3 separate regions of the Homo sapiens genome follow, and regions 1 and 3 are each reported to be linked to region 2. The links are microRNA targets in miRTarBase. Many come from high-throughput screens and were not tested one by one. Region 2 holds a microRNA gene; each other region holds the end of a gene's coding sequence.
What was found. Region 2 holds the annotated microRNA hsa-miR-3194-3p (AGCUCUGCUGCUCACUGGCAGU, at 2,214-2,235, opposite strand). A microRNA usually pairs through its seed, bases 2 to 8, with sites in the 3' UTR of a target mRNA and lowers its output. Matches are read on the target gene's strand: a 7mer-m8 pairs with bases 2 to 8, a 7mer-A1 pairs with bases 2 to 7 and ends in A, and an 8mer does both.

Region 1 (4,000 bases), not on the chromosome of region 2:
CAGAGGAACATAAAAGTAAAGGACCCCATTAACATTACCATAGAATCAACAAATGACACACATCTACCCCTGACCTTCTCTACAACTCTTATTCTTCTCCCTCACAGAGACTCCAGTCTCTCCACAAGTCACCATGCCAGAGAGAGGCAATGGGAGCTACATGAGGAGAAAGCAACAAGTGATCCTGCAGGGCATGAAGTCAGCCACGAAGTTCTGAAACAGGAATGAGTGTCATCCAAGATTATTCAGCAGAATTCAGGAGTCCTGATTTCCAGACGCAGAGGGAGAACACTTCTTTCTCAGGGAGCAGAACTGCCAACTATGAAGAGACACAGGCTGCCCAACTGGGGCTCATTTTAGGCCCTGACTCTTGGGGTGAAGTGGCAGTAGTTGAAGGAGCATGAATCCACAGGAATGTTTTGCCAGTCTCTGAGTCTGGGAGTAGTACCCACCTGACCTGTTTACTGGGGGCAGAGTCCAGAGTGGGACAAGAGGGAGGGGACCACAACCTGTGATCAGAGGGCAGCAGGGCTGCACAGGTCCTCCTGAGTGTATTTGACACCAAGTGGGGTGGAGGTTATGGAGAGGAGGCCACACAACAGGGACAGAATCAGGCCAATCCAGGCCTTGGAGTCAGCATCTGTCCAATGAGCCCAAGTAACAGGGATTTCAGGATAGGGCCTCCTAGGCTCACTTAGGGAGCCAGGCCTAGGTTTCACTGACACTTTCCTTCATGCCTGCTTTCCTCAGGCAGTGCAGCAGAGCCCTGCGGGAGGCTGCGGGGATAAAAGCCTCCATCTGTGGTACTGCCCACCTCCCTGTTCACAGTATCCTCTTCCCTAGGCCATTCTCCCTCATGGGGGAACCGGCAAGAGGCAAGCCAGAGGTGCTGCCTCACCGCCCACTGGCAGCAGCCCCAGGGAAGGAAGGGAGGGAAGGAGGGACAAGGATCAGGCCTGGGAGGCCCAGGGTTTTCAGACCTAGGGGATCTGGTCCCAGGGGGCGGGCCAGGTTGGCAGGGGAGCCCAGGTGCCCAGGTTCTAGGGGCGGAGCCTAAAGACTGGGAGGCGGAGCCCCAAATGACAGAAGGCGGGACTCAGGAAAGCCGGTGGGGGCCAGGGCGGAGCCGGGCAAGACGCGGTCGTTGCGGTTCCCAGGCTTGCAGTGCAGGGGGCACGGTGACTCACCCAGGCGGCGTCCGCCCGACCCTCTGAGGCCGCGCTCTTGCCACTTCCGTCTCCCGCAGCTGCTGAGGCCGCGCAGTCCCGACCCCACCACAGTGCCCCTCTCCTGAACCAATCATATCTCTAGCCTGTACCCGCCCTGGCCAATGGCCACGCCAAGTCCCGCCCTGCCCCCATCACGCAGCCACCGCCCTCACTCTCGACCCCACTCATTGGTCGAGTCGGGCAAACGCCCTCCCAGCCTTTAGCCAATCGGATGCCTAAAGACGAGACTATACCTGGAGGAAGGAGGCGCGGCGCCGGAGGGGAGACGCGACCAATGGGAAATCACAGCGCGTCCTTGCGGCAGCCAATAGGAGAGCAGTAAAGAGGGGGCTGCTGGCCACTGCTCTGGGGACCGGAAGTGGAGGCGGCTCGTCGCCTACTGGTAGCGCAATTAGAGGCGGGCATTGTAGGTTACATGCCTAAAGCCACTTCCGGTGATGGCCCCGCCCAGGAGGTACTTCTGAAACAGGTCCCCAGTGGCACCTCAGTTTATCCATTCCCGTTTTGGTTTCGCAGCTGTCATCCGGTCCCAACGCCAGAATAGGAGAAAAACCTGCAGGCTAAGAGAGAAGGGAGGGCTGGGCCTGAGGTTCAGTCTTGGTCATCTCCGACTGGCGGCGCTAGGATTTCCCCCTTCCTGTGTCTTGATGGGTTCCTCCAACACTCACTTTGTATCGATAAACGACCCTGCAGTTCTTCACGACCTGCATTGCGCTGGCAGTCCTGAGTGAAGAACTCTCCTCTCATCCCAGAGATGGGAAACCTGGATCTGAGACTGCCAGCTAGCTGCGGCCTCCTAGTCTGTAAAGCGAAGGGAGACCAGGACGCTCCCAAGGACCCGGCTTATCGCCCCTCCCTTTCCTTCCCGGGGACCCAGAACAGACCACAAGACGGAGGGTGGCCGCTGGAGGTCGCCGTGGCCCCGCGATACCACCAACCGACAGAAATGGAGAACAGTTGATTCAGATTCAGCTGATATTCTCAGGTCTGGAGCGGGCCTGAGCGCTTTAATTAGCCCGGGGCTAATGTCCTCACCCATCTTTGTTTATAGAACGTTGAAACTCCAGTACTGTTGGTAAGTTCCAGGAAGACAGGAACTTTGCACTACTTGAACTCCAGGGTCTAGAACAGCCTGCAATCTAGCAGATGCTGTAAATTTTTTAATTAAATACTGAACTCCTGTAGGACGGTGATTGTGTTTTTATTCATTCCCAGCACTTACTATAGTGTTTGGTGATTACAATGGCTGCAGCATTTGTTCAAAGCTCTATCACAGGCTTTCTACAGTGTAGAGCTTAACCTGCCTATCCCTTTTCCCAGATCAGGGGAAACAGAAAGTCAGGAGGTTGCACGCAGTTAATACCTTGTGTTTTCCCAAGGGCAGGTATCAAATACAAAACTGCGTCCGCCGCAGCTGGAATACGCACAGGCATCAAAATGGGGCCTTTTGGGCCGGGCGCGGTGGCTCATGCCTGTAATCCCAGCACCTTGGGGGGCCGAGGCGGGCGGATCTCAAGGTCAGGAGATCGAGGTCATCCTGGCTAACACGGTGAAACCCCGTCTCTACTAAAAATACAAAAAATTAGTCGGGCGTGGTGGCGGGCGCCTGTAGTCCCAGCTACGGAGTCTTGTAGTCCCAGCTACGGAGCTTGCAGTGAGCCGAGATAGCGCCGTTGCACTCCAGCCTGGGCGACAGAGCGAGACTCCGCCTCAAAAAAAAAAAGGGCAGGGGGGACTTTTGGACAGTCCTTTAATATTGGGGAAGTGCCCCAAATTTCTTTTTCTTTTTATTTTTCTTTTTTTTTTTTGAGACGGAGTCTCGCCCTGTCACCCAGGCTGGAGTGCAGTGGCGCCATCTCAGCTCACTTCAAGCTCCGCCTCCCGGGTTCAGCCATTCTCCTGCCTCAGCCTCCCGAGTAGCTGGGACTACAGGCGCCCGCCACCACGCCCGGCTATTTTGTATTTTTAGTAGAGACAGGGTTTCACTTTCTCCTTAGCCAGGAGAAGTGCCCCAAATTTCTAATCCCTTAAGCCAGGACCTTGGTAGCCCTGAGGTGTGATGGGAGACTCTGGACAGAACCACCTGTTGACCTATCCAGGACCCAAATATGCACCACAGGTAGGAATCTTTTTATTACCAAAGGTACTGTATGTGTGAAAGATGGAGAGAGACCCAGACCCCAGATAACAGAGGCATGATAGATATGATCGTCAAGATGGAGAAGCCAGGCTGGATTCTAAGCAGGGACTTAGAAGGGGAAAGGAAGTGGAAAGTTTTCCCCACTCTCCCTTCCCTACTAAAAGCCAGAAACCAACATCTTCTACCATTAGCCTTTCAAAACTGGGTCCCAGGATCTTGATCTCCAGGTCATAAAAATACACACAGGGACACCAGAAGCCACCTACAGATTTATTAAACTTTATTTCCTCTGAGTCTCTGGGCAGTCAGCAGGGATGTAAGGCGAAGTGGCAGTAGCTGAAGGGGCCTGAGCAGAGCTGGTGCTGGGAGGGGCCGGCATGGACAGGAAGAAGAGGAGGAGATTTAAATATCCAGGGCTGAAAGCCAGTTAATAGTTCTCCTTCATCTGTTTTTGTATTTTGTGTAGCATCTCCTGCATCCGCCGCAGCTGGAATAGGCACAGGCATCAAAATGGGGACTTTTGGAGAGTCCTTTAGTATTGGGAAAGTGCCCCAAATTTCTAATCCCTTAAGCCAGAACCTTGGTAGCCGTGAGGTGTGATGGAGACTCTGGACAGAACCACCTATTGACC
Region 2 (4,000 bases):
TCTGCCTCCCATGGGTGCCAGCTTAGATGAGACCACACACGGAAAGTGGCAGGCACAGGGCTGCCTGCAGACAGTGGCCAATAATAGGAGCTGTGATTATTACTCTTGTTCTTAACAGCCAACTTTTCACAGCTGAAACAGGCTCTGTGTTTTCCTGCCTTCAAGAGGTAAATATGAAATTTCTTCTGAAACCAAGAGAATAGAAGCTAGAGAATAAATGCCATTCACTCATTCCACAAATGCTTAATTGATGCCCTTGGATAGCTTCAGAATAATTAAACTCCCAGAGTGCTTAAAAGCTGGCTGACTCCTAACTCCGTAAGGAACTTGGTAGGATCCAGCCTCAAACTCTTTCCTGCACAGTTCCATCAGCAACAAAAAGATTTCAGTGTAAATAGAAACCACTCAGTCAACAGAGCCCTGTGTGGCTGGATCAGCCCCTCAAGGCAAAGCAGGCAGAGGCCAGGCCTTCTCCCTGCACCCCACTTTGCAGGACAGCTCGGGGGAGCTGTGCAGGCATTCCACCAAGCAGATGCTGGGCCTGAACTGCTGAGACGCAGAGGGGAAGGCTTAAGGTGACCCTGATTCTGATTTTTCCTCATGCTCTTTTCCTTTCCTTGTCTTTCCTGAAAATTTCTAAGCTGTAGACCAGCAGTTGTTGACCAGTGGCAATATTGCCCCCCAGGGCAAATTTGGCAAGGTCTGGAGACATTTTTGGTTGTCACAACTTGGGCCGCACTACTGGTGTCACGTGGGTGGAGGTCAGGGATGCTGCTGAACATCCTGCAGTGCCCAGGACAGCGCCCCTGCCAAGTCATTATCTGGGCCAAACTGTCAATAATGCTGAGGCTAAAAATGTGGTATAGACCAGGGGTCTTCAATCCCGGACCACAGACCGGTACTAGGCGCACAGCAGTAAGTGGGTGGCGGGCGAGAGAGCAAAGCTTCATCTGTGTTGACAGCCACTCCCCATCACTTGCATTACCGCCTGAGCGCTGCCTCCTGTCAGATGAGCCTGCCATTACATTCTCACAGGAGCATGAACCCTACTGTAAACTGCGCTTGCCAGGGATCTAGGTTGTGCACGCCTTAGGAGAGTCTAATGCCTGATCATCCGTTACTGTCTCCCGTCAACCCCCAGATGGGACTACCTAGTTGCAGGAAAACAAGCTCAGGGCTCCCAGTGATTCTACATGATGGTGAGTTGTATAATTATTTTATTGTATATTACAATGTAATAATCATAAAAATAAGGTACACAATAAATGTAATGTGCTTGAATCATCCTGAAACCATCAGCCCATCTCCCCAACCCTTGAAAAGAACTGTCTTCCATGCAACTGGTCCCTGGTGCCAAAAAGGTTGGGGACTGCTGGTGCAGAGTCTTCTTGCCTAGAGCAGACTTTACCTTCATCATCTCTGATCCCTCAAGCAACGCTACTCCTCAGCTCACTCCTCAACTCACTGCCACCTGGGTACGTGTGATTCAAATCACCAGAGGCCCCCCAATCACTGGACTCTCAGGCTGACCTCGGGCTCTGTGACCTTCATAGCACTGCCTCTGCTGACCCTTCCCAAGTCTCCTTCCCCTGGTCTCCAGGGCACCAGACTCCCCTGGTTCTCCTCCTCCTGCTGTGACAGCTCCTCCTCTGCCACCTTTAAGGGATGTGGCTCTCAGTTCTCTAAGCCTCCCCTTCTCCCACTGGAGGCCATCCTGGGAGGTCGGAGCCAATTCCCAGGACTTCACCTCAGATCTCATTGCTGACAGCTCCCATGACAACATCTGCAGCCAGGATCTGGTTTCTTAGTCTAGACCACGTGGCCACATACCCACCAATCTCTTGCCTTTCCACAGAGGTGAGATCATGGTTCATCCAAGAAGGCCCATGGGTACATGAGACTCAACGCTTCCACTTCCAAAATGAAACCCGTCCTCCCTGCCCAACCTCATCCCCACACAGACCTCCTCTCCTGTGTGCTAAATCTCAGCTGGCCAAGTGCACCACGTGAACAAAACAATCTCGACACTCAACCTCTTCCCCTTCCCCATCCACAGCAGCTCCAGAAAAACAGCAGCAGCCCCTGCCCCTTACCGAGCACTTCCGGTGCTAAGCCCACTTGCTCTAATTCATTCAGACCTTACCTTTGTGGGTAGGCACTGTCACTGTCCCTGCTTTTCAGGGGATAGATGATGGAGAGTTTCCGCAGGTGACACTGCCAGTGAGCAGCAGAGCTGCCCGGGTGGCACGCAGCCCTCCTGGTGGCTGGCCCTGCCACCTGCGTTCTTAATGCCTCTCTACACCACTACGTCCCATCAAACCTCAGTGACATCTGCCTTCTAAACCACTCCCGACCCATCCCTGCATCTCCCTTCCCCACTGCCACAGCCTTACTTAATACCTTTTTTGTTATTTTTCGCAAAGGCGTCATCAAACCCTTTTAAAATAAATTCTGCCTCTTGTTATGCTTCCAACTGTGAGAATGCAGTTGTCACACCCCGGTCACATGTCCAGCCCATCCCAGAAGGATGATTTGTGCGAGACTGGAAGAAGCACTCTTTGCCTAAGACAGTCTGCTTCCCCCTGCCAGAAGTTGTCTTACTAACGTGTAAACTGGTGATGTATCCAATTTGAATGGCAGCCCTCAGAGGAGGTGCCCTTGTACAGTGCACAATCCCTCCAACTGGACAACTCACCTGTTATATTCTCGGATTGTTCTAAGGACAATAAACAAATAGACAAACATCAACACCCCTTTGAAGTAACCTACTGAAATCATGTCTGTTAAGGAAAAGGAAAATTGGTTCTAGTATCCAAAATAAGTGTCCCAAGTTATTTGAGCTAATTTCCTTCTAACAACACATTTGTTTCATTAATTATTGCTTAATCTGATATTTTCCTACTTCAGATCAGCATCTTTTCTACCACATACCCACTGAAAAAGACACCGATAGTACACCAAAGGAAGAATACACGTGGTGAATAAACAAAACATTATGCGTCTCAGAGCAAGGAAATGCAAAGTAGAAAGAAGTACCAATTCCACAATGATTCCTTTTTAATTTAAAAAAATGGCATTTCTGGGATGGGGGTGAAACTATGACTGACATGATGGCAACTTCAATTTGTAGATTTCTGGAAGGTAATTTAGCAATATGTATTTAAAGTCCTCAGAATGACTATCCAAAATTCCACTGCTGGGAATAAACCCTAAATAAACTAAAAAGATATACATATAGATTCATGTACAAGATTAATTAATCCTAGAAGTATAAGCTGATTCACTGCAGAACTACTTATAATAAAAATACAAGTAGCCAATATTAATTGGCTTATGCTGTACTTGGCACTATTATAATTACGTGACATGTATTAGCTCATTTAACCTCCATGACAACTTTATGGGGTAAGAAATTTTAACGGATAGGTAATATGCCTCGGATCACCAAGCAAGCAGATAACAAACCCAGAATTTGAACCCAAGATATCCAGGGCCAGAGTATGCATGCTTTATCACTGTGCTGTTTGGCCTCCCTTCTTGATAATAGCAAAAAGTTTTAAAAATTTCCTTCCTTATGTAAAAAAGTAATTTTAAAAAAAGGATTGAGGGTGGGAGATAATCTCATTTTCTGTCAAAATGACCTAGAAGAGTTAAAATGTAGAATGGCACATTCATGCAATGGCGAATGGTATGGCCATCACAATCCCTGAAGACACGCTGAGTAAAAAGAGCAGGGTATAAAACTGCACGGTGGGATCTACCCCCCAAAACCAAAGTTGTATATAATAAAGAGATGGTCACTTTTGCATGATTCTGGGGGACAGAGAAAGAGCTCAAAAATCCACTGACCTGTGGTCTTCTCAGTAAACACAACTTTGGACTCGGATGTAAAGTTCTGCCCCGTGAGGATCATTTGCTGGCCGCCATAGACCAGGCAGCTGTCTGTGTCTTGTCTTTCAACCATGGGCAGCTCGTGAGCAGATCGCTGGGCTGCAGGCAA
Region 3 (4,000 bases), not on the chromosome of region 2:
TTCCCCTTAGTCAGGGGAGAAAGGGGGAGACACACTGTGTCAAATGTGGCCAAGAGAACAGGTCTAAAGACAGCTCTGGGCACCCCAGGGGTTTCAGGAAGGTGAGAAAAAGCAGCAAAAGAGAACAAGGAGTGGCCAGAAACGTAGGAGAAAGCCAGGCAAACTCGGTGTTTTGGAAGCCAAGGGAGGTGTTTCTTCAGGAGTGCTCAAGGACCGCAAAGGATGCTAACTTCAGGCGAGGACCGAGGCGACCCATCACCCCCTGCCACACGTGACCTGAAGAGCAGCTTCAGCAGAATGGATTTAACAGCAAATGCAGGAAGAGAAATTAGGGAACACAGAACACTTTTTCAAGACTAGAGACCATGGCACAACTGGCAAAGGAGAGAGGTGTGGACTGTCACGGGGGCTAAGATCCAGTGTGTAGAGTGTTCCAGAAGGGAGGGCTGCGAGGAGGGGCATGTAGGAAATGTGCTGTCAAGTCAAATACAGCGAGACCAAAATTCCACTGGCACGAGAAATGGGATGAACTCAGTAAGGGCACCTTCCACATCGCTAAGGAGTAGGGTGAGAAACGCCCACCCAGAGGCACCCAGGGCTGCGCATTTGACGGGGCCTTGCTCTTTCCAAGAAGAGACAGACTTGGCATGTTACCTATCTGAAGGGGGCGCAGAGTGGAGTCCCTGAGGAGAGGATGGGATCCAGGCGGTGATGGGATCCAAACGTGGTCGTTCAAGTCTTTTCTCCTCAAACATTTAGCCAAGGGCACAACTCTATCTCCTAAGCATTCCAATTGAAGACTCTTGTGTGTTCTGCCCCACAATTTACTCATGTTGCTCCATGATTGGGATAGGGTGCGTCACACATTATCTAAAACTTCACAGCTCCCAGTGTCTGTCCCAAACTCCTGCCAACTGCCAGGACACACCGCGAGCCCCACAGCAGCCTCTGCTGGTGGACAAGGTGAGCACATGGCCTAGGTTTGAAGCATGGTTTTTATGGCTCTGGCCGTCCCTTCTTCCCCAGGGGCCTCAGCTTTTGGCATTTGCACCTCTGCCCCCAATTTCTCATTTTTTCAAGAAAGGTCCAAGACCTGCTTTCCCTGGCAAGCTCAGTCCACCTTTCTGAAATGCTTAATGCCCTAGATCTGTAATGTGATTTTCACTGTATTATTACTTCACATAACTTTTTTTTTTTTTTTTTTTTTGGAGATGGAGTTTTGCTCTTGTTGCCCAGGGTGGAGTGCAATGGCACGATCTTGGCTCATCACAACCTCCACCTCCACCTCCCACGTTCAAGCAATTCTCCTGCCTCAGCCTCCCAAGGAGCTGGGATTACAGGCATATGCCATCATGCCCAGCTAATTTTTTGTATTTTTAGTAGAGACAGGGTTTTACCATATTAGTCAGGCTGGTCTCGAACTCCTGACCTCAGGTGATCCACCCATCTTGGCTGGTGGGATTACAGGCGTGAGCCACTGTGCCTGGCCACATAACTGTTTCATTAGCTGCAAGAAGCTTCCCACACCTTGATGACTTAAGGCCTTTGGCTAATATGAACACAAGGATGAAGTAGACTACAGCGAGTAGCGTTGTGGACCAGTTACTAAGCCCATCTAAGCTTCAGTTTCTGAAAACCAAGGTTAGTAACATACCCGTTTCATAGGATTCTAGGGGGATCAAACAGAAATGGACACTCCTGCCACGTGGTAAGTGCTCTTCAAATGCTATTACACAACGCAAGTTTCCCCTCCCCTCCATTATCTCCTAATCATTCTCCCTGACACCCTCCTTCCACCCCTACCAAAAGGTGCTAGATGCAAGGGGGGCATGCAGAATTCAAGCACTGTTTCTCCCCATGGAAAAAAATCAGGTTTCAAGGTAGTCAGTCACATCTAATAGTGTACTTAAACATACCCCTCTACTTTTTGTCGTTTATTTCTATTTATAACAAACTCTTGTGTTGAGGGCTCTTGATGGACGGCAGCAAGGGAGCTGCTCTGCTGCATATGAAACCCCGACCCAGAGCCCCTCTACTCATGCGATGTGTAGTTGACAGCCACTTCACAAACATTTTCAGCTACAGAAAATATATTCAAGGAAGAATGTTAAAAAGTTTCCTTATAACCTACAAGGGGTTCTCTCTAGATGTAAACAAATCTGGATGAAATATTTTAATCCAAGTATACCATTTCCCACGTCGTAAATCTTCTGGGCTGGTGGGAGCCAATCCAGTTACACACTGGAAGGGGAGTGAGGGTCCCAGGGCTTCCCCACACCTCACAAGGCCCACCCTTGTTTCCACTGACCCTCTCTTTGACCTGAAACCCCCAATTGCCTCCACAGGCAAAACAAAACTCAAATCTCTCTAGACTCAAAGACTTAAGACTATGCCAACCTATTTGTTTGTAATTACACTGCTCAAGGCTCCTGTTTCCTCTCCTTCAGCCATTCTCCAGAGCGCTCCTCAAGAGATTTTAAGTCTCTCACAGCCAGACTGTATTTCCCTTGGTCAAGAAGCAACCACGGAATATTCTACCTGCAGGAGATAACAAATGTTGACTAATTTATGTATGAGACCATTCTATAGTACTTTTGCAGCGAATTACCCCCTATTCTGAAGGTTAATGTTTTTCCTTCTGATGATCTAGACGGGGTCCACACACTACAGCATTCAGCCCAAATCCAGCCCATGAGCAGAGAATCTTTTTTAAAAACAATCCTTTAAAAATATAAAAACCTAAGACTATGTGACAGAGATCATATGTGGCCTGTAAAGTCTAAAATATTTACTGTTTGGCTCTTTATCCAAAACTGCTGATAGTGCCTCTGGACAAGAGCGTAAAAGATGAGTCATGGCGTAAGGGAATAACTGAGAGGTCACGTAGAAACCTGGTCAGCCTATGAGGAACCTTGAGGCACGATGTTTCTTTATCCCAGTAATTCGGCAACTCGACTCCAAGCACCCAATTTTGTGGATGAACCCCAAGGAGTCTGTCAACTTTCAAAATCACGGCAGCTGTCTGCCACTTGCCAGACTTATTTTGGGTGAGTAATAATAAATAGAGAAATAAGTAATAGTTAGAGGTTGTAATAAAAAGCTATTTAATGTTTGATAGACAAATTGAAGTCCATAAATCTCCTTGAATAAAGATGCTAAAAATGTTATTCTTGTTTTTTAAATAGTTTCGTTTTTACAAAGTTCTGTACATAAAAATAAATATACAGAAACAAACCCCATCAACTGTCCACATCAGTAATCCTCACTGGTGGGCTCACCATTGATAAGGAAGACATCATTCAACGCAACCTGTCACAGAGACTGTCCTAGCAGCAAGGATTTCTAACCTCAAAAGAACATTACTAGGCCTCTTTTATCAAGATTGCTAATCATCTAGAGGCCTTTACCTACCAACTAGCAATTAACCATGAAATCAATGAATGCAATCACTGTCTCCAAGTAGAATGTGACCAATGACCTCATGCCTAGAGGCAACATCTATACCTTTTGCTGACTGGAGCCCTGACATATGCAGGTGTAGTTAGGAACAGAAATCAACCCCACCTCCCCTTGGCTAGTCACTGTGAAAAGCGTGCGTAAGGCAATTGAATCGAGGGTTAAGGGTTCATCTTGCTAATGTCAAAAGTGACACTAACAAGATTCTTAGCCTCATCCGCCAGATGACGGGCCTCTGCGTCCAGGTCTCCAGGAGCAAGCTCCGCCTCCTTCACCAGACAACGGGTTATAACCTGGGAGGACAGAAAAGCAGCACAACAGTATTGATAAAAATCTGAAAATCTGGGAACATTGTATATCCACAATAAAATTATGAGAGTGACACGCAAAGCACTGCAAAGATACAGATCCTAAGGGACATTTAAAAAAACCTTTTAGCTATGTGAAAAAAAAAAAAACCTTTATATTGTGATTGCCATTTGAACTGATTGTCTGGTGGGGAAAAAAGTCATTCAGCTTCTTTGTCCCAACCTCCGAAACACAT

Region 1: the mRNA of SEPTIN4 is a reported target of hsa-miR-3194-3p. The part of its 3' UTR that is shown has no 7-base or 8-base seed match.
Region 3: miRTarBase lists SELENOS as a target of hsa-miR-3194-3p. The part of its 3' UTR that is shown has no 7-base or 8-base seed match.

What each region holds. Positions count from the first base shown.
Region 1 is chr17:58,516,630-58,520,629 of GRCh38, forward strand. SEPTIN4 (septin 4) reads right to left here. Exons shown (of 14, transcript NM_001368771.2): 14 at 3,627-3,856. The coding sequence ends at 3,797. SEPTIN4-AS1 (SEPTIN4 antisense RNA 1) reads left to right here and starts at 3,208. Exons shown (of 5, transcript NR_110810.1): 1 at 3,208-3,348. It also overlaps a transcript of MTMR4 not described here. RefSeq lists enhancers at 1,767-2,512, 1,860-1,959.
Region 2 is chr20:51,450,699-51,454,698 of GRCh38, forward strand. MIR3194 (microRNA 3194) reads right to left here and starts at 2,279; the gene lies at 2,207-2,279. It overlaps NFATC2 (nuclear factor of activated T cells 2), which reads right to left. Exons shown (of 11, transcript NM_012340.5): 6 at 3,850-3,990. RefSeq lists an enhancer at 182-683.
Region 3 is chr15:101,269,108-101,273,107 of GRCh38, forward strand. SELENOS (selenoprotein S) reads right to left here. Exons shown (of 6, transcript NM_018445.6): 6 at 3,084-3,749. The coding sequence ends at 3,664. Among named protein-coding and RNA genes, the nearest start is that of SELENOS, 6.4 kb to the right of the region's middle.